Linked DNA regions of Homo sapiens. The protein of the gene in region 1 interacts with the protein of each later gene in a pairwise test. Each region holds a gene or a part of one and is shown in the gene's direction. Other genes may lie near its edges.

Evidence for each region.
Region 2: the proteins of EMP1 (region 1) and MAL interact in binary tests that used the Homo sapiens proteins (3 or more experiments, as listed by UniProt).
Region 3: the proteins of EMP1 (region 1) and TLCD4 interact in binary tests that used the Homo sapiens proteins (3 or more experiments, as listed by UniProt).
Region 4: the proteins of EMP1 (region 1) and HTR2C interact in binary tests that used the Homo sapiens proteins (3 or more experiments, as listed by UniProt).
Region 5: the proteins of EMP1 (region 1) and CD37 interact in binary tests that used the Homo sapiens proteins (3 or more experiments, as listed by UniProt).
Region 6: the proteins of EMP1 (region 1) and EDA interact in binary tests that used the Homo sapiens proteins (3 or more experiments, as listed by UniProt).
Region 7: the proteins of EMP1 (region 1) and TMEM218 interact in binary tests that used the Homo sapiens proteins (3 or more experiments, as listed by UniProt).

What each region holds. Positions count from the first base shown.
Region 1 is NC_000012.12:13,217,084-13,220,441, forward strand, and holds the end of EMP1 (epithelial membrane protein 1), read left to right. Parts: 3' UTR 1-2,858; downstream 2,859-3,358.
Region 2 is NC_000002.12:95,042,708-95,046,207, forward strand, and holds part of MAL (myelin and lymphocyte protein), read left to right. Parts: intron 1-3,177; exon of another isoform or gene 3,178-3,440; intron 3,441-3,500. UniProt on the Homo sapiens protein: May be involved in vesicular trafficking from the Golgi apparatus to the cell membrane. Plays a role in the maintenance of the myelin sheath, and in axon-glia and glia-glia interactions.
Region 3 is NC_000001.11:95,144,855-95,148,354, forward strand, and holds part of TLCD4 (TLC domain-containing protein 4), read left to right. Parts: intron 1-3,500.
Region 4 is NC_000023.11:114,902,086-114,905,585, forward strand, and holds part of HTR2C (5-hydroxytryptamine receptor 2C isoform a precursor), read left to right. Parts: intron 1-3,500. UniProt on the Homo sapiens protein: G-protein coupled receptor for 5-hydroxytryptamine (serotonin).
Region 5 is NC_000019.10:49,334,046-49,338,205, forward strand, and holds the start of CD37 (leukocyte antigen CD37), read left to right. Parts: upstream 1-1,360; 5' UTR 1,361-1,495; coding exon 1,496-1,564; intron 1,565-1,668; coding exon 1,669-1,741; intron 1,742-2,863; coding exon 2,864-2,988; intron 2,989-3,101; coding exon 3,102-3,176; intron 3,177-3,879; coding exon 3,880-3,984; intron 3,985-4,160. UniProt on the Homo sapiens protein: Structural component of specialized membrane microdomains known as tetraspanin-enriched microdomains (TERMs), which act as platforms for receptor clustering and signaling.
Region 6 is NC_000023.11:70,025,113-70,028,612, forward strand, and holds part of EDA (ectodysplasin-A), read left to right. Parts: intron 1-2,744; coding exon 2,745-2,924; intron 2,925-3,500. UniProt on the Homo sapiens protein: Cytokine which is involved in epithelial-mesenchymal signaling during morphogenesis of ectodermal organs. Functions as a ligand activating the DEATH-domain containing receptors EDAR and EDA2R. May also play a role in cell adhesion.
Region 7 is NC_000011.10:125,098,127-125,101,626, reverse strand, and holds part of TMEM218 (transmembrane protein 218), read left to right. Parts: intron 1-105; coding exon of another isoform or gene 106-183; intron 184-323; coding exon 324-426; intron 427-3,500. UniProt on the Homo sapiens protein: May be involved in ciliary biogenesis or function.

The sequences.
Region 1 (3,358 bases):
TGTGAAATTTCTTTGAAATAGCCAGCTCCTCTAATGTGTCTTCAAAATATAAAGTGATTCACAAAGGCATGCATCACACCTATTTGTAGCAGCCCATTCATTACATAAACCAGGGCATACCTGTGTGGGCTCTGTGAGTGAAGGGAGGCTTCACTACTTTCTGTGAGCAGTAAGGACTGGTATCTTTCTGTGAGCAATAAGGACTGGATAAAGACTGCATATCCTTGTGTCGTGTCAGCACCAATACAATAAGGAGGGTTTTAATGTGAAGCAGGCAATCTTCCAGCCCCTTCTGGTCTTGGATGAAATAGTTGCACAGAGTATTGCACCAAAAATACACAATGGAGGCTGAAAAGTTCAACATATTTTAAGTCAATTAATCAAATTGCATTGATTCTTGATGCTTTCTTAGAGGCCTACATGATTTCTTAGATTGCTCTGATAAACTATCATAAGGGGTCCACCTCCCCTCATTTAGCTCCCCCAGGGATTTCTTTTCCCCCATGTCATACACCCAGTCCTAAATCAACCCCCAAGGCTATCCTTCCATCCCTTCTGCAGAGGGAACTTTTGTCAGACTCTGCAACAAACTCCTAGCTCTATCCAGAGTGTCCTCTGCTGCTAAGATTGGTATCTTTCTCCTCAAAAGCCTGGATGGTGAATGGGGGTGCATTAGTCAGAATTCTCCAGAGAAACAGAAAAAATAAGATTCGCGTGTGTGTGCAAACATATATATAAATAAATAAAAATATATTTATTTTAAGGAATTGACTCACATGATTTTGAAGGCAGGCAAGCCCAAAGTCTGCAAGGGGTGGGCCAGCAGAGAGCTGGTGCTACAGTGCGGGTCTGAAAGTTGCCAGAGTCCCTTTTATAGAGAAGCTTAAAAAATATTTGTTGAATTAAATGTCTTAGGTAGAGACAAATTGAATTAAAGTGGTTAAGTAAATACTCTTAGGTGAAATTTGTGCAAATTATGAGTATAAAGAGGGTGAGCTACAGAACTCTCCATGACCACTCAAGAATGGGACCCAAAGGCAAATGATAACTTATTCATTCATCAAGGGATAAACTTGAGTTATCAAATGGTTAATAGATAAAGATCCCACTCTGCCTTGGATTTAGCCATCGCAGTCCCTGTGTAAAACCCCACCGGCTTTCAGGCATGGAAAAAAATTTCACAAAGGCCTTGAAAGAAGGCATATGAAGACCAAAAGGATATTGAGCAGGGTTCCATACTTGAATAAAGGAAGAAACTCCCTTCAATGTTTACTAAGAAATAGTTAGAATATAGCATATCCTGTATAGATGAAATGTCCTAGCGAAAATGTTTAAATGTATTTAAAGAAGAGCTAGATTTTGTGGGGGGAGAGAAGGGAATAGGATAGGCTGGTGGGAGGAAGAATGAAAAGAAGAAAACTTGTTGGAAATTTTGGAGTAGATTGTGAGGAGGGGTGACTCACTTTAAAGATGTATCATTTGGAGGTAGACACGATTTTCAGAGCACAAAACAGATAAGGAAAGATGTATGCTGATTGTGTGGAGCCCAAGGGAAGGCGGGGTTTTGGAGTCTTACGTGGCTTTGTTTCTGAAAGGGAGACATGTGAAGCCTACTCCTGAGGCGGGAGGCTGGGGACATGACCATCAAGACCTATAATTGATAAACAACTAGGGGCTGGGTGCTGCACCTACATGCTGGGGAAATAGAAAATGAAGCAGACATGTGTCCCATCTTCTTCCAGCTTTCAGTCTAGCTTGGAAATAAATCTCATACCTAGAGAAAATGGAGGATCTGTGGGATGTAGATGAGGTGGGAGCATGAATGCCTAGGGAGGGAAGAAGAAAGATTTTCAGTTCTTCAGCTTTTCCTCATGACCCTATCTCATGCCATGAGCAATTGTCTGGCATCTCCTGTGGGTTGGACCACTGCTGCATTTCTTACTTGCCAACATCACTTTGTCCCAAATGCCATTCCTTTGTTCCAGGGCCTCCTTGTCTTCCATCTGGGGAACTGGAGGTGAGAAGCATTATAATAGCCTCTCTGCCTTTATCTACAATCTCTCCAACCTGTGCTTTATGCTGATGTCAGGATGGGCGTTGATGGATGCTTCTATCACTGTCGGGGCAGGGAGGGCCAGAACACTAGCATAAGATGTCAATATGTCTATCCATATGTCAGGTCCATACTCAACTCAAGCTTCTGGTTAACTGCTGATCTATTGGCAACTCCAGTTCCCAATAAGTTCCTCATCTCCTTCTGAGACCACCTCAGTGTGGACTTAATCGTCCACATCACTGTCAGCATTTTGGTTAAAACCATTCAACAAGTCTCCAGGAAGCTCCAAACTTTCCTTCATCTTCCTGTCTTCTTCTGAGCCCTCCAAACTCTTCCAACCTCTACCCGTTACCCAGTTCCAAAGGTGCTTCCACACTTTCAAGTATCTTTATAGCAATGCCCCACTCCTGGTACCAAATTCCTGTATTAGTCTGTTTTCACACTGCTATGAAGACATACTTGAGACTCGGTAATTTATATAGAAAAGAGGTTTAATTGACAAAAAAGCTAACAAAGTGAGCCCTGATTCAAAAATGACTGTCTACACTTGGCACATGAGGGACTTTATGATATTAAGAGATTAATTAAACAACAGTGGATGGGGAGGAAGAACAGACTTTTGAGCTCTTCCCAATATAGGAATGTGTTAGTTCTAAAAATTTTCTTAAGTTGTTTGCTTGGAACTCAGAGTATATTTTTCCATACGAAAAATTCAGAACTATTTTATTTATGATATGGGCTAAAAAGACTTCTGTAATCTAGCTTGGAAACTTAATAATCATTAAACTTATTTTCAATGAGATACGACTGTTTAAATTCTGAAACCTGGAACCCTCTGTTGCCCTGCAAATGCTTTAGGAAAAGAAGAGTGTGTCTGATGGAGGATAAGATGGAAAGTGAATATGGATCCATATTCAGAAGACACGGTTGCATTACAGCAAAGGAACAGCTTTTTGCTGGCCATGCTAAGCATTTGACATTGATGTGGGAGAACATGGCATTCAGTATGACTCTGTCTGGATATATATAGTTTTGTAAATTGGGTGTTCTTAAGTTGAGACTGCATGTTTCATTCCAAAATCAATCTTAGTTTTCCCACTTGCATTAGCATATTGTATTAGTCCGTCTTCACACTGCTATAAAGACATACCCGAGACTGGGTAATTTATAAAGAAAAGAGGTTTAATTGACTCACAGTTCTGCATGGCTGGGGAGGCTTCAGGAAACTTATAATCATGGCAAAAGGGGAAGAGGTACGTCTTACATGGTGACAGGGGAGAGAGAGCATGCAAGAGAAGGGAA
Region 2 (3,500 bases), on another chromosome or scaffold:
TTCAAAATAATTGCCTCTTTGCACTGCCACCTGGAGGCTGGGAGCCACCTGGAGTCTCCTTGATGAAAGGAAATGCTTGAACCCTCACATACTCCCTTGCTCTGGACAAATATTTGGCCAGCGGGGTCCTGAGGCCAGGCTGGAACAGATTGCTCTGTGCCCAGGAGTGCCTTAACTCCCTGGTGTGGGTGCCCTTCTTACTCTGTTTGCTCTCTGTACATTTAGTAGGTGGAGCAGGGCAGGAACCAGATTTGACTCATGGTTTACAACAAATCTCAGCTTTGCACACAGCGGGGCTGGAGGCTCACCCTCCCTGGAGCCCCACCTTCTGCTACTCCTTGACCCAAGCCCGGCTGCCCAGCCTTCAGCCTCCAAAGCCCTCACAGCTGCTTCAGCATCCTCTGAGCTTGGCATGTGCCCTTTCTGCCCTCTGGAGAGCCCCTCCCAGTCCTTTGGCCTGGTTAACCAGTTAGGTCCACCTCTCTCTCCAAGGCTCGACTGACCCTATGCACCTGTCCAGGCTGCTCTGCCCACTCGGGGCTGGTTGTCCACCTGCATGTTAAGTGGCTGCTTATGCATCTGTTTCCACTGAGCTGTCAGCCTCCTGCATGAACGACAACTTATTCCCAGGTATTGGTAGTGCTGGGCTCAGTGCCAGAAGCTTCATACTCACATCTGTAGTTTTAGCCAGTTCACACCAGCCCCCAGTGTGGGGAGACTGCTGTGAGTTGCCATTTGCAGAGAGGAAGCTGGGGCCAAGAGGCAGAATCACTTGCTGCAGCGTCCCACAGTGACTTCGGAGGACAGCTCCTCTGAGAACGGGAGTCCCCTGCCAAGGGGAGGGAGCTGGCAGGGCGCCTCTGCATTAGAATTCTCCCAGAGAAGACCGCGGCAAAGGCCTGTGCTCCAAAGGCAAGGGGCATGACTCAGCTGAGGCAACAGCTGTTTCTGTTCCACAGACACCTAGCCGGGAATGAAATCTCTCCTGACTCGGCTGTGCCTTTCCCGTATCCTCCTCTTCTTCTCAGGATTGCTCTTCACCCTCCTCCGCCCTGTCCCCCAGATGGCCCCTGTGACCCTGGGCTCTGCAGTCCTCCCTGGGCATCTCCTGGGCAGTGCTGAGCGGAAGGTCGACCGCCCCACTGCCCATCCCCTGGGAGCAAACCCCTGGCTTTCATGATGTCATCTGTGCTGAGACATCTGTGACTACCTTCACCTTCATATGTTTCTGGGACAGGCAAGGACTGGTGTAAGAGCGTCCCTAGGAACGTGGTTCCTCAGAGGCTTCTGGGTTGGAGGCTCCAGGGACATGAGACACACTCACCCAGGGCCCCCTGAATGGTGGGGTCCAAAAGGGGCACTGTGCAGCTGCAACGGTAGAGATATTCTGTGTAAGTCCCCTTGAGAGAGAATTTCTCACCTGAAGACATTATACTAAATGAAAGAAGTGAGCCACAAAAGTCCATATGTTGAATGATTCCATTCATATGAAAGTTCAAAATATGGAAGTTTGTAGAGATAGAAAGTAGATTAGTGGTTGCTTGGAATGGGGGCAGGGAAGCCACAGCTCATGGGATTTCTTTCCAAGGTGATGACAATGTTCCAAGATTGACTGTGGTGATGGACGCACGTATCTGCGAATATTCTGAAAACCAGGGAATCATACCCTTTCAATGGGGGAACTGCATGGGCTGTGAATTATAGCTCATAAAGCTGTTTAAGAAAAGAAAAAGATAATGTCTCCCCACCATCTCACTATGAAACATACTGCTATAAATATACCATGCAAAGGAAAAAAGTCGGCCTCATTTTTTAAAGGACTCACTTGCAAGGTGATGCCCCCAGAGGCTGGGTGGGGTCCTGAGATCTGTCAGGAGCTGGGGTTAAACCCATAGTGGGCTTTGTTCTATGGACAACTGTGGACAAGGTTCCCACTATAGACTGCAGGAACCTGCGAGCCAGTGTGGGGAGCATGGAATTTCCCAGGGAGCTGGAAAATAGTCTTCATCAGGTTGGTAAAAGCACACACTGGAACAGGGCAGAGTCTGGCCTGACCTCAAGGCCCTCCGCGCAGCTGCCGGAAGCTCAGAGCCCAGGCTGTGGCTGCAGCCAGCAAGGTGCACACAGGAGGCTGTGACCAGCTCTCCACACACTGACTTCCCCTCACTTTTCCTGCCATTGATTCCTCACACCAGTCACATCTTAAGCCACGTGGGAAGAATGGAGTGGAGTGAGATGACTCTGCAGACAGGAGCTGAGGACTACCTTCTCAGATTTGCCATTTCCAGCTGCCATCTGTGCATTAATTTACCTCATATGTATTTTACAGTTAATTTTTCCCAAAATAATGACATTGCAACCATAAGCATAGAAACAATGTCACTATCCGGTTTACCTTTGCCTATCCACGCTATTAGAGAACTCCAGACACCTGGCTCCACCCTGAGCCCTTCTTGCCTTCATCAGAAAAACCAAAGAGAGTAAAGGAGGAGGAAAATCGTTTCCTCACTGTGAAATTCAGTGTTCCTCGATAGCATGTGTATAGGTCACCCGTAAGCGCCTCTGGCCCACGGGGTCCCACTGGGATTCCATAACGGAGTCTCTTCCCAACCATGTGCAACCCAAGCTGCTCCTTTGGGGTTTGGTTCATAAGTGGCTCTAGTTCAGCCACACCCAGGTACCAGGAGACCAAGGCCCGTTAGCTGACTTGGACACCGATGCATGGCTGGATGGGTCTTCTCCTGGTCCCCACCAGTGAGGCAGCTGTGAGCAAGGCAGACCTCAAGCCCACCATCACCTGGTCAGGGAAAGCGCCATGTTATCCCTAACCCAATATACCTGTGTTTGTGCTGAGTGCTACAGAGAAGACGTGCAGGACTCCCTGAGACTGTGTGAACGAGGAAGCAACTTAAATTGGTCCTCCTGGGAGGGTCACGTAGCCACCAGGCAAAAGGCACTTAGGAGAGGGGTTCCCAGGCCAGGGCCTCCCTCTTCCCACTGGATGTGCCCGCTGGATCCTCCTCCTATTTCTCCATGCCACCCTCGCATGCCTCCTGAATCCAAGCCCTGCCTGTACCAATGTGCTCCTGTCCCTCCGTCAGTGCCCGTTATGGAAAAGGCCACATAATCTGTTGAATCTTAAACTCAACTGTGGATGAAATCTACACACACATCTTATTCCATGGTGGTCTGGGCATTTTTATTTAATTGATTTTGCTCCCATTTTTGTAAGATGCACAGTGCATCCCACCGGCCCTGCCACGTGCCTTCAGGCAACCTAAGATCCATCAGCAGAGGACGCTTTCTGGTCAGAGATGCCCACATCTGATTCCTTAGGGACAACTTGGTTTTAATAAATCCAAAGTCTTCATTGCACTGATTTTTCTACCCAAATGCAATTCTCTCCTGATTGCTTCTCAGTCAAGCAGCTCAGAGAACACCTGTGAAGACAGCGGTATCTCTCACCCAGCAGGTGGGCAGCAGGTGCAGGGAGGTGGGGG
Region 3 (3,500 bases), on another chromosome or scaffold:
TAATTTTTGTGTTTTTAGTAGAGACAGGGTTTCACTAGGTTGGCCAGGCTGGTCTTGAACTCCTGACCTCAGGTGATCCACCCACCTTGCCCTCCCAAAGTGCTGGGATTACAGGCATGAGCCACTGCACCCTGCCAGAGTTTTAAAAAGTTGGTTGCAATTTTTTTGTGTGTGTACAACTTATTAATCTCACAAGATTTCAAACACAAAATGGCTCTGATGACTTCTTCACGTGCTTTAGAGCATTTTATGTCCCCAAACATCACTGTGCATTTGTAAACCTCAGTGAGTCAGAGCAGCCGTGGCCTTATTTTTTGTTGTTGCTATTTAGTTGAAGTTAATACTAACCATAAAATGGATTCAGCAAGTCTCTAAAGTTTGCTATAATTATCTTTCATTGAAATTTCCTTTTAAAATTCAAGAAATTCTGTCAGTGTCTGAGTATTTATTTGAGAATGGTCATATTTGATTTGAAATTCCCTTTGAACCAAATTGTTTTGCAGGCATCTACTTTTATGATTCAGACTGTGAATTTAATAAGACTCTAGTTGTTTTTTTTTGTACTTTACAGTGATGTATCGGGTTCATACATGTCAAAGTTCTTTTCACCCAAAAAGCAAGAATTATTTCTCCACATATTTTCAAAAAATAAGCAGTATGATTATTTTGTCTTAAGACTAGCACAAAAATATTGTTCAAATGCATTATACTAGAGATACCATTACTTTAAAAAATCTTTTCTAACATATGAAGATAGATGGAATGGTAGGAAAGAGAAGGGGGTACATACGTTCTCTGATTAAATGTTGAACTATTTTCATTTCCTCTTTCCTGTGGTTAGGATAGGTAAAGGCATTTGAATGTTAGGTAGCTGCAAGTCAGAGAAATAGGAAAGGGTACAGAGAGATGGAAGCCAAGATGAAAATGAAATGAAATTGAAGAATATTTTGCATTATCTAGTCTTATCACTGCCATTCTATGACACAGGAAATACCATTTGGGAAACTGAATTTCTATTTGAAAAAGGAGTCTGGGATTATATAAAATTCATTTAGGTATTCAGTGGTGTTTTCTCTTTTTCTCAAGTTTGCTCCTGCTTCTCACTCCAGCTTTTTTTACAAAGGACTTAAGCTGTAAGGTGGAGAGTGCAAAGTAGGACAAGGAGGCTGTATTTTGAGTAAAATATGTATAAATGTCTTAAAATTCAGCTTCCAGTTTGAAACATACAGGTAAACACACATAATTCTTTCTAGTGATCAGGAAAGAGTCTCTAAACATGAGTTGAGAGTGGTCTGAGCCATCTAGTATAAAAAGAAATGGAGGAGAAAAAATCACTGGAAATGCCCATTTGAGAGACAACAGTTTAGTTAAAAGTGAGAAATTGTTGTACTGAATTGTTACTTTTTCTGAAAACGTGTATACTTACAGGTGCTACATCTTATAATGTAAAAAAATTTTCTTAATTACTTATATTCACTTTCTTACCTATCACATTGAAAGTCTTATTGTGTTGAAATACTACTAATTTTTAAATGTTTCTCTAAAATTTAGCTGAGTTATATAATTTCTGTTGGCAATATTTACACTACTTGTGATTAGTAACTTAAAATTGCTATTCTAAAATAGTCATTAATCATTTCCTTAGAGTGCTATCCCTTTATATGCACAAACATTTCTTTTCCACCCTCTTTGAAAAAAAATTGAAATATTTTATCTTGGGTAATATCTTGGAATTTCTTTTTAGATACTAAGGAATCTAAATTTTCCTTTGCTAGGAATCTGATTTTAAATAATAAAATATAAAATTTTTATTAACAGAAGTTTCTGAAACTATAGTATAGACTTTTAATACAGAATAGTGTATGAGTGAGGGCAGGGTATTTGTTTTTCCTCCTCATTACAGAGGGAGATATTTGATTGGACCAAGTAATATTTAACTTTTCTGTACTGAATCATACACCATTTCCATCAGCTGAGGGCTTAGAATGCTTTCCATTTACCACATAACATCTCAAAAGAGAAGTGAATCTGAGGCCTGAGTGTCAGAAATAAAAAGTTAGGTTTTTCAAAAGGGAGCTTTCTGACTATGGTTACCAAACAGTAAAACAAGTTTGTAAGAGAGATTATATATTTTTAAATTTTATATAATTTTTGAATAGCAATAGAGAGTGGGCTGTATGACCATTTAAATGGAGTATTTTATTTTATATCAAGGAATTTAATTTTTTTTTTTTTTTGAGACAGAGTGTCGCTCTGTTGCCCAGGCTGGAGTACAGTGGTGCAATCTCCACTCACTGAAACCTTTGCCTCCCAGGTTCAAGTGATTCTTGTGCCTCAGCCTCCCGAGTAGCTGGGATTACAGGTGTGTACCACCATACCCAGCTAATTTTTGTATTTTTGGTAGAGATGGAATTTCACCATGTTGACCAGGCTGGTCTCAAACTCCTGACCTCAGGTGACCCGCCCACCTTGGCCTCCCAAAGTGCTGGGATTACAGGTGTGAGCCACCATGCCCGGCCAAGGAATTTACATTTTTATCCTGTGCTCAAGGTGTGCTTGGCATGAAAATTATAGACTTGTAAACCAGATAAATTGGATTAATTATTCACATTTCAAAATGATTCTTAGGTATTATAAATGATACTTGGTCAATGCCTTTAAATTGGTGAGAATCTTTGCTTATTTAAAATATGGCTTGATTTAGCATGATACATCTATTTTGTAACACACTATTAGGTCAAGTATATTGGTTTCTAAAGTTACAATGAAATTTTCTGATACCAAACCTAATATTAGTTGATATATTTTACTTTTAAAGATTTGGGATCATATTGTAGAGAAAAATTTATTGCACACCAGTAATTTTTAGAGAGAAAACTTTGCTGTACCTCTCATTTTTTATCCTAATGAAGTTTCATTACTTGTGAACTTCTCAATAAAGATGTGAGAAATCTGAAATTGTTGGGTAAAAAAACTTTATTGTATGGATGAATACACAGTATCCTAAGTATAGTTCTCTAAGTAACATAGAGCTTGGGAATTAGTCACATCATTAAATTTATTAACAAGATATATTCATAGAAACTTATGGTTTTTATGTTAAACTTATTCCTTCTATACAAGAAAACTTGACCTGGATCTTGAGAACATTGTGCTTTCACTTGGGTATTTCTTTTAAAAACAAATTTTCCGTATACATTTATGGTCCTCAATTTTTCTATTTAGAAATGTTTTCATAATAATGATAAAGAGGGACTAATAATAGCTACCCTTGTTTTCTTACAAATTTGTTACAAGAATCAAGTGCAATAGTGCATGTCAACGTACTTTAAAAACTGAAGCCTCCCAAGATAATAAATCTTCATATCATGATCCATTCGAATTGTTTTAAGGATATGGAGTTTGTTAAAGCCAGTAGATCTGGAAGTCATTCCCAGCTGATTGGAGCAGGAAACTTATCCTGCATTGATGCTGTTGGGGCTGGAGCTTGGAGCCAAGGG
Region 4 (3,500 bases), on another chromosome or scaffold:
CTTACTTAATTTTTCTGAAGTTAACTTCATCAAATAACATGTGCCTTGCGGAATTTTTATAAAAATGAATGATGAATTTAAAGTGTTTTGTTGCCAGTATTGCTGTTATTTATATTTACCAGACATGATAATATCGCATGAATTACTATTGGTTGAAATAAAAATGCTAAGACAAACTTAACACATTTGCTGAACTTAACTCTCTAGCACTTAAATAACTTAATGCATTAACATAGAACAGCAGTTCTCAAGCTCTTTGGTGTCAGGACCCCTTTATACTCTTCAAAATAATCGAGGACTCCAAAAGAGTTTTTGCTTATGCGGCTTATATTTATTGATATTTATGGTATTAGAAATTAAAACTGAGAAATATTTAAAATATTTAGGAATAATTTTATTTTCAATAATAATAATAAACCCATCTAAGGTTAACATAAAAACATATTTTTGAAAACTATAATCTCCAAAACAAATCAGAGAGAAAACAGGCATTGTTTTACAGTTTTGAAAATTTATTGTATTTATTTATTTATTTATTTATTTTAGATGGAATTTTGTTCTGTCACCCAGGCTGGAGTGCAGTGGCGGGATCTCGGCTCACTGCAACCTCTGCCTCCTGGGTTCAAGCGATTCTCCTTCCTCAGCCTCCCGAGTACCTGGGATTACAAGCATGTGCCATCATCCCTGGCTAATTTTTGTATTTTTAGTAGAGACTGGGTTGCACCATGTTGGCCAGGCTGGTCTTGAACTCCTGACTTCAGGTGACCTGCCCACCTCGGCCTTCCAAAGTACTGTGATTACAGGCGTGAGCCACTGCACCCGGCCCACAGTTTTGAAAATCTCTTTTAATATCTTGTTTGACAGAAAGAAAGCTAGATTCTCATATATGTATCCACATTCAAACAGTTGTGATATGTTGTTTTGGTTGAAATTTATGAAGAAAATGCAGTTTTAAAGACAGTTAGGAAAGGAAAACCTAGCAAGCTTTCTAACAGTCTCAGACACCCCCCTAGGGTCCTTGAATCACACTTTGAGAACTGCTGACACTTACCTTTTATTTTTTTTTAAAGTATTGAATAAGACAGTGTACAACATATATTGTTATTAATGCTGCTTTTGTTGTTGCTTTTTATAATTTCCTCATATGTTTGAAATAACTTGAATTTCTTCTTGTTTTGTTGATTGCATTCATGGTTTCTAAAAACAAAAGAAAATTAATGACAGTGCAGATTTGGTAAACTGGTTAAGCTACTTTGCCAAATAATACCTGTCTTATAAAGTTTTTAACCAAATTGAGATAATACATTCTACATCTGTAATGTCAGTAATATACATGGCTCAGTGCCTGGCACATAGGATACACTCAATAAATGGCAGCTATTAGAATCACCCTTTCCTCAATGCACAAAAAATAATACAAATAGATGCCAGGGATAAAATTGGCCTCATCTACCCAATAACAGCTTCAGCTTATCTACAGTGACTTTGCTACCCTCTCTTGCTGTCCCTTGACAAGGCCTACTTTAGGCTCAAGAATCCCTTAGACAAGTGAATAAATCATTTAACAGAAGCGAGCTAACATTACTCTGGAGTTGGTCTCTAAGTGATACAAACTTCCACCAATCTCATGGCCTGTGTGTGAGGCCTTCCCCAGAAACGTCCAAGTGTGTCTATGAATACTTAGAATATATGCAGCATTTCCTGTGGGAAATTGAAGGTACATGCCTCAGTCATGATGCCTCCAGGGTGAAAGCAAATTCCCCAGATTGAGTCTCTAGCCCCACGCTGTAGTATCTAAGGTGCTGGGTGGTTGGCAAGGTAGGAGATTGAAGAGGGAAACACCACTCCTGCATCCTTTATTGCTTTTGCTGTAAGGAACCTGGAAAGGTATAACAGAGTTTCCTATCAACACATTGTCAGAAAATGGCCTTCTTCCCTACAGTTTTATCAAACAGGTGGTTGAATGTTTCTATTTAGGGATCCAAATGTTTTTTTGCTCTGGAAGGAATCACTTCCAAGATTAGCAGTGGCCAATCAGTTTTGGAGACTTTTTAAAATCTGAGGCTTAACAGTGATGTTACTCTGTTTCAGAAAGGACCTCTATGTCTTCTTTTCTCTTTTTTTAAATTGAAAAAAATTATTAAACTTTCTGTTTCATAGTTGACTTTCAAAGATTACAAAGGTAGAATTATAAAATAAAGCCCATGAACTCATCATCCAGCTCCAAGATTTATCAGCCTGTGGACTGTCTTGTTTCATCCATACTTTCATCCACTTCTCCCTCCCGTATTATTTTGAAATAACTCCAAACATCATAATACTTCATCTGTAAGTGTTTTAGTATGTATATCAAAAAATAAAAGAGCTGTCTTTTTATATAACCACAATATCAATACCTCACCTAAAAATTAATGAACAATAATTATTTAATATCATCCAAAGGCCAGTCATTGTTCAGATTTTTAATTGTGTCATGAAAATTTTTAACATGTTTTTGTTTTCATCAAGATCCCAAGAAGATCCACATATTATAATTACTTGATAGATCTTTTAAGTATCTCTTAATATATAAGTTCCCCCTCTAACATTTTCTCTTGTAAATTTTTTTAAAGAAACTCTTTCTTCTTTTAAAAATCTTATATTAACTTTCTGCAGACTAATCCGTCACTAAAATATGTTATTAAGGTTAAGCCAACACTGATGTCTTTAGGGCATGTTTGATCTGTGCTGTCTAGAGATTACCTTACGTTTATGATTTTTCACATAAAGATTTAAACAACACAGTCTGGCAGCTTTCTTAACTGCTTTTTTTTTTTTTTAACTCTTAAGAAATATATTCTGTGTGGTTCTGCTGTACTCTATATTCCCAAATTCCTGTTGAAATTTCCCAGGCATTTCATCAAACTTGGTGAAAAATCACTTTCTCTTTTCTCCTTCTAATAATTGTCATTCCACCCCATCTAGGTGCAAAGGTCTCTGCTTTAGGATCTGGCCATGCACTACTTGAGGTGACTTACTGTTTGCAGTGCCTCCTCATTTTCAGTCTTTCCTACTTTCTTGAATGGTGTGCCTAGGTTCAGAGCTATAGGTAGGCATGGACCAATACCCAGGGAAGTCTTGTCATATCTGTTGTGGCTTCCTCACCCTGTTACTTGGCTTCCTACTCTAGGAAAAGGCCAGTCATTTTAGAAATTCCATGTCTGAGGAAGAAGACTTAAAGATCACTTTCAAAACACTCTCTTCTTTCTATCTTCCCAGAGATTAAACATCCGTCAACATTCTCAGCAAGCTCTAGCAAAGAAGCATTGACTCATTGTTTTTTTTCCCTCTTGATCATCCAGCCAGACACTCTATACCTGACTAGGCATGTTAAAGCAACTAGTAAGGACTTTCTGTTTCAGGTTTGTCACAGTTGCTTGTGTGTTCTCTAAGGTCAGCAAGGATCTCTGAGAATGCATTTCTGTCTCCTCTCACAGTTCATGATGTAGACACCTACCAGC
Region 5 (4,160 bases), on another chromosome or scaffold:
CCAGGGACCTTCCCACCTCGAGCCTGTAGCACTTTCACTTCCCCAGGTACCCAGCCCCTGCCCCCAGCACCTGGGTGCTCCCTGGTCCAGAACAGGCTGCAGACTCTGAGAGGCACAAAAACAAGTGGGGAAGGGGGAGACAGAGAAAAGAAGACAGGCTGGGCACAGTGGCTCACGCCCATAATCCCAGCACTTTAGGAGGCCAAGGCAGGAGGATCACTTGAGCCCAGAAATTTGAGACCAGCCTAGGCAACACAGTGAGACTCCCATCTCTACAAAAAATGAAGAAAATTAGCCAGGCATGGTGGTGTGCACCTGTAGTCCCAGCTACTTGGGAGGCTGAGGTGCAAGGATTGCTCGAGCCTGGGAAGGTTGGGGCTGCAGTGAGCTATGATCGCACTACTGCATTCCAGCCTGGGCGACCCTGTCTCAAAAACAAAAACAAAAGAGAGATGAAGAGAGAAAGGAGGAAGGACCCAAAGAAGGGGCCAGAAGCAGAGAGAGGCCAGGCACAGTGGCTCACGCCTGTAATCCCAACACTTTGGGAGGCCAAGGCAGGAGGGTCGCTTGAGTCCAGGAGTTCCAGACCAGCCTGGGCAACCTAGTGAGACCCTATCTCTGTTTTTTTTTAATTAAATATAAAAAATACAACACTCCCACTCCATAGCAAGACCCCATTTCTACAAAAAATACAAAAATTAGCCAGGCATGGTAGTGTGCACCTGTAATCCCAGCTACTCAGAAGGCAGAGGTGGGAGGATAGCTTGAGCCCAGGCTACAGTGAGCTGTTTTCCCCACCGTACTCCAGCCTGGGTGAAAAGTGAGACCCTGTCTCAAAAAGAAACAAATATATAAATAAAATAAAGAAACACAGAGAGAGGGAGGATAGAGACCCCAGGAGGCAGGAGGACAGAGACCCAGAGGAGGGAGAGACTCTGCTGAGATAAGGGGACAGAGATGGGGAGTAGCAGGAAGGTGGGGACAAAGACCCAGAGAGGAGGAACAAGAGACCCAGGGCAGGAAATGGGAGACACAGCTGGATGCAGAGATGGGAGAGCTTAGCAGGCCATGAGGTCAGAGTGTCTGTGAGGTCAGCTGCTGTCCAGGGTCAGCCCTGAGGTCCCCATGCCCAGAGGTGGGTTCCAGTAGATCAGGGGTCCCTTTAGATCCCCCAGCGCCTGAGACATGGAGACCTGGGAGGGACTGCCCCATGAGTCCTTGGTGCCCACAAATTCCAAGGCCCCTCAGGTACCAGAGCATGTGTCCCAGTGGAGCAGGTGAGGGAGACAGGGACAGAGAGAGAGACAGAAAGCCACCTTACATGAAGCGGGAGTGGGTGGAGCCCCACCCCTGGAACTTCCTCTTTTGGGGTTCTTCCTTTCTCTCTCAGCTCTCCGTCTCTCTTTCTCTCTCAGCCTCTTTCTTTCTCCCTGTCTCCCCCACTGTCAGCACCTCTTCTGTGTGGTGAGTGGACCGCTTACCCCACTAGGTGAAGATGTCAGCCCAGGAGAGCTGCCTCAGCCTCATCAAGTACTTCCTCTTCGTTTTCAACCTCTTCTTCTTCGTGAGTTGCCTCATGGCTACCCAGCCGGGGCCCAGCCCCTGCCGCTAACCCAGCCCTCATCTTCCCCTGTGGCCCACCCCCGTATCCGCATCTCCTCTCCCCAGGTCCTCGGCAGCCTGATCTTCTGCTTCGGCATCTGGATCCTCATTGACAAGACCAGCTTCGTGTCCTTTGTGGGTGAGGGGGGCTGGGGCAGGTGGGAGGGCCTCCCCCAACCCAAGCAACTTCCTGGGGTCTCCCTTGTCTCAGGGAGACCTACGGTGCCCTACTCTGCAGGCAGGCTACAGGCTCCCATCCACTGCTCACCGGAGGCTTCTTGGAGCCTGAGTCTTCTTCCGGCAAATGGGGTTGTGCATACAAACAACAATGATCATGAGAGCCATTTCTCAAGCACTTCCTATCTGTCGGGACTTGTGGCTGGTCAGATGCCCCCACAAACCTTCCCCTCGCTTGAGGTTCAGAGAGGGGAAGCCCCTTGATGGATGTCATACAGCAAGGACGTAAAAGAGCCAAAATAACATTAATAATAGGAAAATAATAATGAAGTATGACCCTAAATAATAATGAAATATAACCCTAAACGCTCATATTTAAGAAGTCTTTGCCCTGTGTTGAGGACTGGGTTGAACACATGTCCTCATGTGTCTCTCAAAATGACCCTAGGGGCCGGGCGCGGTGGCTCACACCTGTAATTCCAGCACTTTGGGAAGCCGAGGCAGGTGGATCACTTGAGGTCAGGAGTTCGAGAATAGCCTGGCCAACATGGTGAAACCCTGTCTCTACTCAAAAATACAAAACGTTAGCCAGGCATGGTGGCACATGCCTGTAGTCGCAGCTACTAGGGAGGCTGAGGCAGGAGAATCACTTGAACCTGGGAGGCAGAGGTTGCAGTGAGCCGAGATCACATCACTGCACTCCAGCCTGGGGGACAGAGCGAGGCTCCAACTCAAAAAAAAACCCTAAGAAATAGATATCATCTCCTATGCCTCAGGGAGGTTTAAGGAGCCAAGCCAATGTCACAGAACAAGTGATAGGGCTGAAACTACTGGGGACGAGGAGGAGCTGAAGGAGGAAGGAGAGGGTAAGAGGAAGAGAGACAGAGATCCAGGGACGGGAAACAGGCCCAGAAAGAAGAGAAAGTTTCAGAAGGAAACAGGGACTCAGGGTGGGGCAGGGACAGAGTCCCAGAGAGAGGGGCACCAAGATACTGCTCCCCACTTGGGTGGCTGCCTAGGTGGGAAATGGGGCTGCCTGGAGCTGTGCCACACAGCTCATCATCACTCCCCTCACCTCTCCCAGGCTTGGCCTTCGTGCCTCTGCAGATCTGGTCCAAAGTCCTGGCCATCTCAGGAATCTTCACCATGGGCATCGCCCTCCTGGGTTGTGTGGGGGCCCTCAAGGAGCTCCGCTGCCTCCTGGGCCTGGTGAGTGCACCATCCCTCTCCGTCCCTAGGAACACTCCTATCCCCACCCTCAAAAATGGCCTGGGCCGGGGTTGCAGGGGTGGTCAGCCTGATCTCTCCACTCTGCTCCCCAGTATTTTGGGATGCTGCTGCTCCTGTTTGCCACACAGATCACCCTGGGAATCCTCATCTCCACTCAGCGGGCCCAGGTGAGCTTCCTGCAGTGGCCACCACCCACCCCCAGCAGGGAGGAGAGGGAAGGGAGTGGTGGGAGAGGGTGGAGAGAGACCGAAACAAGGGCAGACAGGGGCTAACCTAGATAAAGAGAAATAAGAGGCTGGGCCTGGTGGCTCACGCCTGTAATCCCATAATCCCAGCACTTTGGGAGGCTGAGGTGGGAGTCCAGGAGTTTGAGACCAGCCTGGGCAACATAGTGAGACCCCATCTATATTTAAAAAAAAAATCCGGGTGTGATGGTGTGCACCTGGGGTCCCAGCTACTTGGGAGGTCGAGGTGGGAGGATCACTTGAGCCAGGGAGTTTGAGGCTACAGTGAGCCATGCACTCAGCCTGGGTGACAGAGTGAGACCCTGTCTCAAAAAATAAATTAATAGAAAGACACACCGACCTGGACCAAGGGAGACAGGCATAAACAGCTCCAAAGGGAAACACACGGGAAAAAGAGAGAACAAGAGAAAGAAATAGACGCCCTGAAAGAAGAGACAGAGACTTATGAGCCGTAGAAATAGTGGAAGAAACAGAAAGACAGACCTGAAGTACACAGAGCTAGCCATTCAGTAAGGATTTGAGACTGGCCCAGAGATGCACAGGGCCCGCCTGAGGCTGGCACAGCCTGAGAGGGGGAGGGGTGGGGCGGGGAAGATAAGGCCCAGCCTCACTGGTGGCCTCTCAGCTGGAGCGAAGCTTGCGGGACGTCGTAGAGAAAACCATCCAAAAGTACGGCACCAACCCCGAGGAGACCGCGGCCGAGGAGAGCTGGGACTATGTGCAGTTCCAGGTAAGCCCCCCTCCTCCAGTTCCCTCCCGGACTGACCCGCCTCAGCCCTGTGCTTGGAGGAGACTCCACCCCAACGTGGGCCCGACCCCCAGCTCTACGATCCTAACACACCCCAATCCCTCCCAGGCCCGACGCTCCCCACTCCCCAGATGACACAACTGTCCCCGGCGTCGCCT
Region 6 (3,500 bases), on another chromosome or scaffold:
ACTGGAACAAAGCAGGAGTTTTTTTTTTTCTCAAATGCCTTCTAACATTTTCATAAGTGAACATTCTCTGTTTTCACTGCAACCATTAGTCTCTTGGACTGGAGGAGTTTCTGGCTCTAATTCTTCCAAAATTACATTAGCAATTACAGGAGACTCACATTCTTGAAGGTGAAGTTTGTGCTACCCACAGAACACCCTCTAGCTTGAAAATCACTGTTAGGCTTGGAAATCTTGGAACACAGGACAGCCTAATATGCACCAACTTCTGTGTCTGTGCCACCTAGAAAATAAGGAGGGAGAAGCAAACCTTACAACCAGGCTAAGAAAGCTTCCTGACTGCAAGGGGTAAGCCACCCCTCCTTATAGAAACTCAGTCTCATGAGGAAACAGAGAAATCATTGAGGCCAAGCTCCTTGTTTCACAGATGTAGAAACTAAGGCTCAAGGAGAGGAAGGGATTTGCCCAAAGTGTGTCTGTGGCAGAGCTGGGGCTTACATCCTTATCTCCTGAGTACAGATTTTGTGTTCTTTCCACTACACTAGCTGGAATTGAAACTTGGGCTCTGAATAAGCCTGATTTGGAAGCTGCCCAAATCTGAAAGGAGATGGTTTTCCTGTTCAGCATCTTGAAATTGGCTAGATCTAGAAACGGGGCAGATCCAATCTTTTGCTGCTAAGTGCAGAGAAACCTCTAAAGCTCATGCCTCTAGGTCTTTAAGGCTACAGGGACTCTTCTGGGAGAGATGTTCTCTGGACCTTCCTTTCCTTCCTTTCTGAGGAAGAGACCCCACGATGACCCCATGGTTTCATTCCAAATGCAGATGTGGTTAGACATAGACAAATGGCCTCTTGAGTGGCATTGCCATGAGGATTGGGTTTCTTGGCCATGAGGCATTGTTCTTAAGGGAGGACCTGATAAATCAGGACAAGATTCTCCTGCCTAAGTGTCTGGGGAGCAAGAAGTCAGAGTCAGTAAGAAGGTTTTTAGTGAGACTAGAGAAGGTTGTATTTAAAACTAAGAAACTACCTCAGGTGAAGACATTGTGATGAAGTCTGGAAACAGGCTTCCATTCCTGAAACTTTCCATAAAATTGTGAGAAGGTGGTGAAGGAAGGAAGAAGACCTGTGCCTACATGTAGTCTTTGAGTGGAGCTGCACAGAGCAGAGGAAGTCAACAGGAAGAGCTGGAGGTTTTGGTTCAAGACCACAGTTATGACTCATTTAAGATAACTACATCCTGGTGGGAATGTTGAAAGGACTGGAATATGAAATAGGAGGGTCGAGATTGTTCTAGAAGGATAGCAAGGAGGAAAGGGGGAAGAGTTGGTGGGCATGATTAATAATACATTTGAGAATGGGACTTCTGAGGAAAGACTTTGGGAAGCTGGATTATTTAGCCTATAGAAATAGGGGTTGGTGGGTAACTTAATTTCTTTTCATATATAAGGATTATTATGTATATGTATATTCTTCTCTGTCTACACAAATAGAATAAGAGCTTAAACTGCCACAAGAGGGACATCATTTAATATACCAGAGAACTTCCTAACAGTGAGCAGTGAGGGGCAATAAACATTGGAACATGTTACTATGGAGTTTGCAGAATTTCCTTTCCCAGAGATCTTTTAAAATAGAGTTTACAGAGGTCAGCTGAGAGAGTGAAACTTGCTGCCTCCTCCTCAGCTCCCTCTACTCTCTGTCTCTGCTTCTTTCCTGTTTCTCAATATCTCTCTCTCTCCCTCCTCCTCTTTCCGTGCCCCTCTTCCTCCTTCTCCATTCCCCCATCTCCAAAACTCCTTCCCATTCCTCATTCCCGACTAGCACTGTCCCCATCCCAACCCCCATTTCCTGTACATCCTGACTCCTGGAGGAACCTTCCTGGAGCTGATACTGTTCCTAAGGCCAGGCTGTACGGCTTCCTCTTGTTATCGACATCAAGTCCACCAAACTGGGCAGTAAACATAAAAGCTCCACATTCTTCAACAATAGCCCTTTCTAAAAAGAACCACAAAGTGACCCATAGGTCTAATCACTTGGTAGAGAAATTCTCATCCTTTGGACTCAGCTGAAATGTAACCTCCTTTTTGAAACCTTCTCTGACCTCTTCAGCATTTGGTCCCTACCCACTAAGGTAGCACTTCTACTATCCCATGACTGTGTCTGTTTCCCCACAGACACAGACTGATCTCCTGGAGGGCCACTTATTTCTATATGCTCAAACCTAGCTTTGTAAATGCATATTCACAAAAGGGAGTGGGGGGAGGGGAGAGAAAGCATAAGACAGACGGAGACAGGGAGACAGAGATGTGTGATAAAGGTATCCAACTCTTTAGCAGGGCCTCCCAGAGAGCTGACTTTGTGTCCTCAGAAGTCTGTAGAACTCCTGACAGTACACTCATCACAGGAAATAACTACAAATGTAACACTGAGGCCAGGCGCGGTGGCTCACGCCTGTAATCCCAGCATTTTGGGAGGCTGAGGCAGGCAGATCACCCGAAGTCAGGAGTTTGAGACCAACCTGGCCGACATGGTGAAACCCCGTCTCTACTAAAAATACAAAAATTAGCAGGTCGCGGTGGCACGCGCCTGTAATCCCAGTTACTCCAGAGGCTGAGGCAGGAGAATCGCTTGAACCCGGGAGGTGGAGGTTGCAGTGAGCCGAGATCGTGCCACTGAACTCCAGCCTGGGCAACAGAGCAGGACTCCGTCTCAAAAAAAAAAGTAACACTGAATCCTATTTTTCAGGAAAGAAAGCAGGACCTCCTGGACCCAATGGCCCTCCAGGACCCCCAGGACCTCCAGGACCCCAGGGACCCCCAGGAATTCCAGGGATTCCTGGAATTCCAGGAACAACTGTTATGGGACCACCTGGTCCTCCAGGTCCTCCTGGTCCTCAAGGACCCCCTGGCCTCCAGGGACCTTCTGGTGAGTTCCCCTGTCTCTCCACCCCACCAGGTGCCTTTAAAGTACTTTAGGAGAGCAGGAGTGGGTGATCCTGAGAGCAGTTTCAAACGGTGGAGATGGGGTTGGTGTGCAATAAGGGATGCAGATCTCCTAGCCCAGTGTAAAACTAGGAATTGGACAAGCCAGTAGGGCCTGGCCTGCTCTAGCTTCTTATATCTACCAAACTGTCAAGGACAGGCCACCTGTTCTTGCCCCATCTCAACCCTTCTGTTACAAGCCCTCCCTGACTCTTGGCCTCCCTGTAGTGGACCAGTAAAACTCATATGAGCCAGAGACAGAGGCCCTGGTGGTTCACAGGAGTTCCAGTGGGGAATAGATGTAATCTTCTGTGATTCCCAGCATCTAGCTCCACATGCTGATGTTTGCATAGAAATAGGCTATGGAGTAGAAAGTTGAGGACTGAACAAAATGACAAGCCCTAGGATAGTTTCATCTTGTGAAGTCTGAAGTGCTTTTCCCATAGCAAGTAGTCACTAATGGTCAAGAAGTTAGAAACTTAAGAGTCACTCAGGCTGTGGATGAAGCAAACCCAGGCAC
Region 7 (3,500 bases), on another chromosome or scaffold:
GTTCTAAAAACAACAGAAGTGGAGGTGGAGAGGGGATGCTTTGGTTTTTCTTGATTATGACTTTGGGCAGAAGTAAAAATAAAAACTACACATTTCCATTCTTAGGAATTGGGAATTACCAAGAATAAATGGGAATGCACCCAGCTGGTACCTGTCTAGGAAGAAGGACTTTGGGATGAAGAGGTTGTTGACAGCAGGCCTCTGGACATTGTTAAGGGACTGAAACATAGAATATTGGCTCCAAGGAAGAGACTGTCCAGACCTAACTGATCAAAGAAGAAATTATAGACAGTGCTTTTAATAATTTGTCTTTTTAACCCCAGGTTCTCTGTCATTTTTTTATTCTTCGGTGCTGTGATCATCACATCAGTTCTGTTGCTTTTCCCGCGAGCTGGTGAATTCCCAGCCCCAGAAGTGGAAGTTAAGGTAAAGCTGTTGCTTTCGTTTTGCCTCCTGAGCTGTGATTCTTATTTCTCTTGGTCTGCACATCCGTCCTGCCCTTGATGTTCCCTGACATCGGGTTGCCTGAGATGTCAGAATTGTAAAGTTCAACCAATGACGGGGAAAGTTCAGAGGGAGTTTTAAGTTCCCCTGCCCCTTCACTCAGGAAAAGAATCTTACTCTGAATTCCATCTACAACCCCACCAGGCAGTTATTTGCCTGATTTGGTCTCATCTTCAGTTTGCATCAAGTTGAAAACAGCCTGTTGGAAAGCCACCTCGTACCATGGGGACAGAAAAAAAAGAAAATGAAATAGGGATAGTCACAGGCCTGCACCCGAGATGAAGTGTTCCCATTCCTGGCAGCCTGGGCTCCTAACTGCAGATCCTGGGCTGAAATTGATGTGGTGCCCTGAGGGTGCTGAGGACATGCTTCTCCAACTGCATGTGCTAGAATTTTCCCAACAGTCTTCTGGGAGTTCTTTGGTCCTCATACCTGGGACCATACCTGCCAGCACCCATGTCTTTAAATGGATTTTTATCATCTCTCTCAGAATCCTTCTCTGGAGTTCTTTACCATGGCTTTACCATGCATGGCTGGTCTCAGACCCATGGGATCTTGACAATGACATTGACCTTTTCTGTCCCATTACTCCTTCTCACAGCTTTCCTCTCAACCTTCATTTTGATGTTTTAAGTGATAGTCATGAAAATAGCTAACATTCTTTAAGGGATTTCCGTGTGCCAGGTCCTGTGCCAAACACTTTGTTTGCACTGTCTCATTTAAACCTCAGGACAGCCCTAAGTAGTATGACATAGGTACCATTATTATCCCCATTTTATAGGTAAGAACACTGAGTCTGTCAGAGGTTAAGGTAACTTGCCCAAGGTCACATAGCAAGAGGCAGAACAGGGATTCAAGCTGAGGTCCGTCTTCAAAATCTTCAGTGTTGAGAACTTAACAGAATATTCAGGGCAGTCCCAGAGAGCTCATGGGTTAGCATTTTGACACTAGACAACAACAGTACACAAGATTATATGTGTAACTTTTGAACTAAAATTGACACTGTAGGATTAACTATGGCAAGAGGAAGGAAATTAAACTCCAAGGGAAATAGTACTTTACCACACACACTTAAGGAATTATTTCCATGGACACAAGTTTGTTGTCAGTATTTGGAAAACACTCTGGAGGTGTGGGTACCACATGTGTGAGCCAGGGGCAAATTCACACCTCACTTATCTTTTTTTTTTTTTTTTTTTTTGAGACAGTCTCGCTCTGTCGGCCAGGCTGGAGTGCAGTGGCATGATCTCGGCACACTGCAACCTCCGTCTCCCGGACTCAAGCAATTCTCCTGCCTCAGCCTCCCGAGTAGCTGAGATTATAGGCATGTGCCACCACACCCAGCTAATTTTTGTATTTTTGGTAGAGATAGGGTTTCACCATGTTGGCCAGGCTGGTCTCAAACTGCTGACCTCAGGTGATCCACTCGCCTCAGCCTCCCAAAGTGCTGGGATTACAGACGTGAGCCACCGCACCCAGCTGCTTTCCTTGTCTTTTAAGGGGGAGAGTGATGTGGGCTGCCACATTTCTGGATGCTGCAGATGTAAACATCGGGAGAAGGGCACAGAGCAAACACATTTTTGAAATCAATCCCTCGATTGTCTGTCATATGAGTTTCAGACCCAGGAGACAAGAATGGGGTTTGAGCAAAATACTTTTGTCAGCATGGCCGGCAGAATTGGAGTTCTCATTTTCAGGTTTTGAGAGCGGGCCTCTGCAGCAGCCTGGCTCAATGCTGTATCAATAATACATGGCCTGGGCCTTCTGCACCCAAGGCCTGCTAATTGGCTAATTAAAAAGTGAAACGTGTCGAACGAGCAAACATGTGGCCCGCAAGAGACTTGTTCAGTACCGGAGCCAAGGTCAAAGTTATGTTAAAGCTGTTTTATCAAACTGACCTTTGTTGTAAGTTGACTGTTGGGGTAATCTCTGGAGCAGCTGAGGTGTCTTTGGACCTCAGTGATCCTACTAGGGCTCGGGTCTGAGAGATACTTTGTGTATGGCCGCTGTGTTAGTTTTCTGTTGCTGCTGTAACAAATTATGTGAACTAATGGCTCCCAACACAGATGTATTATCTTACAGTTCTGTAGGTTAGAGTCCAACATCAGTCTCACTGGGCTAAAACCAAGGGGTTGGCAGGGCAGCATTCCTTTCCAGAAGTTCTAGGGGAGAATCCATTTCCTTATCCTTTCCAGCTTCTAGAGGCTGCTCGTATTCCTTGGCTGACAGCCCCCTTCCTCCATCTTCAGAGCCAGTGACATCACACCTCACTGATGCTTCCATCCTCACCTCTCTTGCTCTGACCCTCTCTCCCACCTCCCTATTCAACTTAGAAGGATCCTGTGATTAGATTGGGTCCACCTGGATTGGATAATCCAGATTAATACCCCTTGTTTTAAGGGCAGCTGATTGGCAATCTTAATTCTCCTTTAACATATAATCTAACATATTCACAATTTCTGGGGATTAGGATGTGGATATCTTTGGGCCATTATTCTGTCTGCCACAATTGCCTTTCAGCTGTTTTGGATTCTCCTAGGTACTGGGATTTCAAAGTTTCTGTGAAGTCAGTCAGCCACTTGGTTGGTGGTGTTGCTCCATTAGGTCTATAGATTAAATTGCTTTTTCCTGCCCAAATTTAAGCACCACCATTTGGATCTGGGGAGAGTGGAGCTCTGGAAGGGGTCAGTGGACAAGTGGGTAGAGCCAACACCAATTATAGGGTTTTGTCAGCAAAGACCAACATCTTTGGGGCCTCAAGTGTAAGGCCAGGCAGCCCACTGTCTGCTTTGGGGCAAGTTACCTATCCTTTTAGTGTTTTAGTATCTCAGGTAAATGGTCATTTTCCCTGCCCCGTGGCATGGGACTCTTCCGCTGATAGCTTTAAAGAGTCACCTTTCATTTTGAAAATGAACCCTCCTGAAATGGCAATGGATTGATGATTTTGGGGGTTGGGTCTTAGATACATGGGAGTTTATTATACTATTGCATTTTTA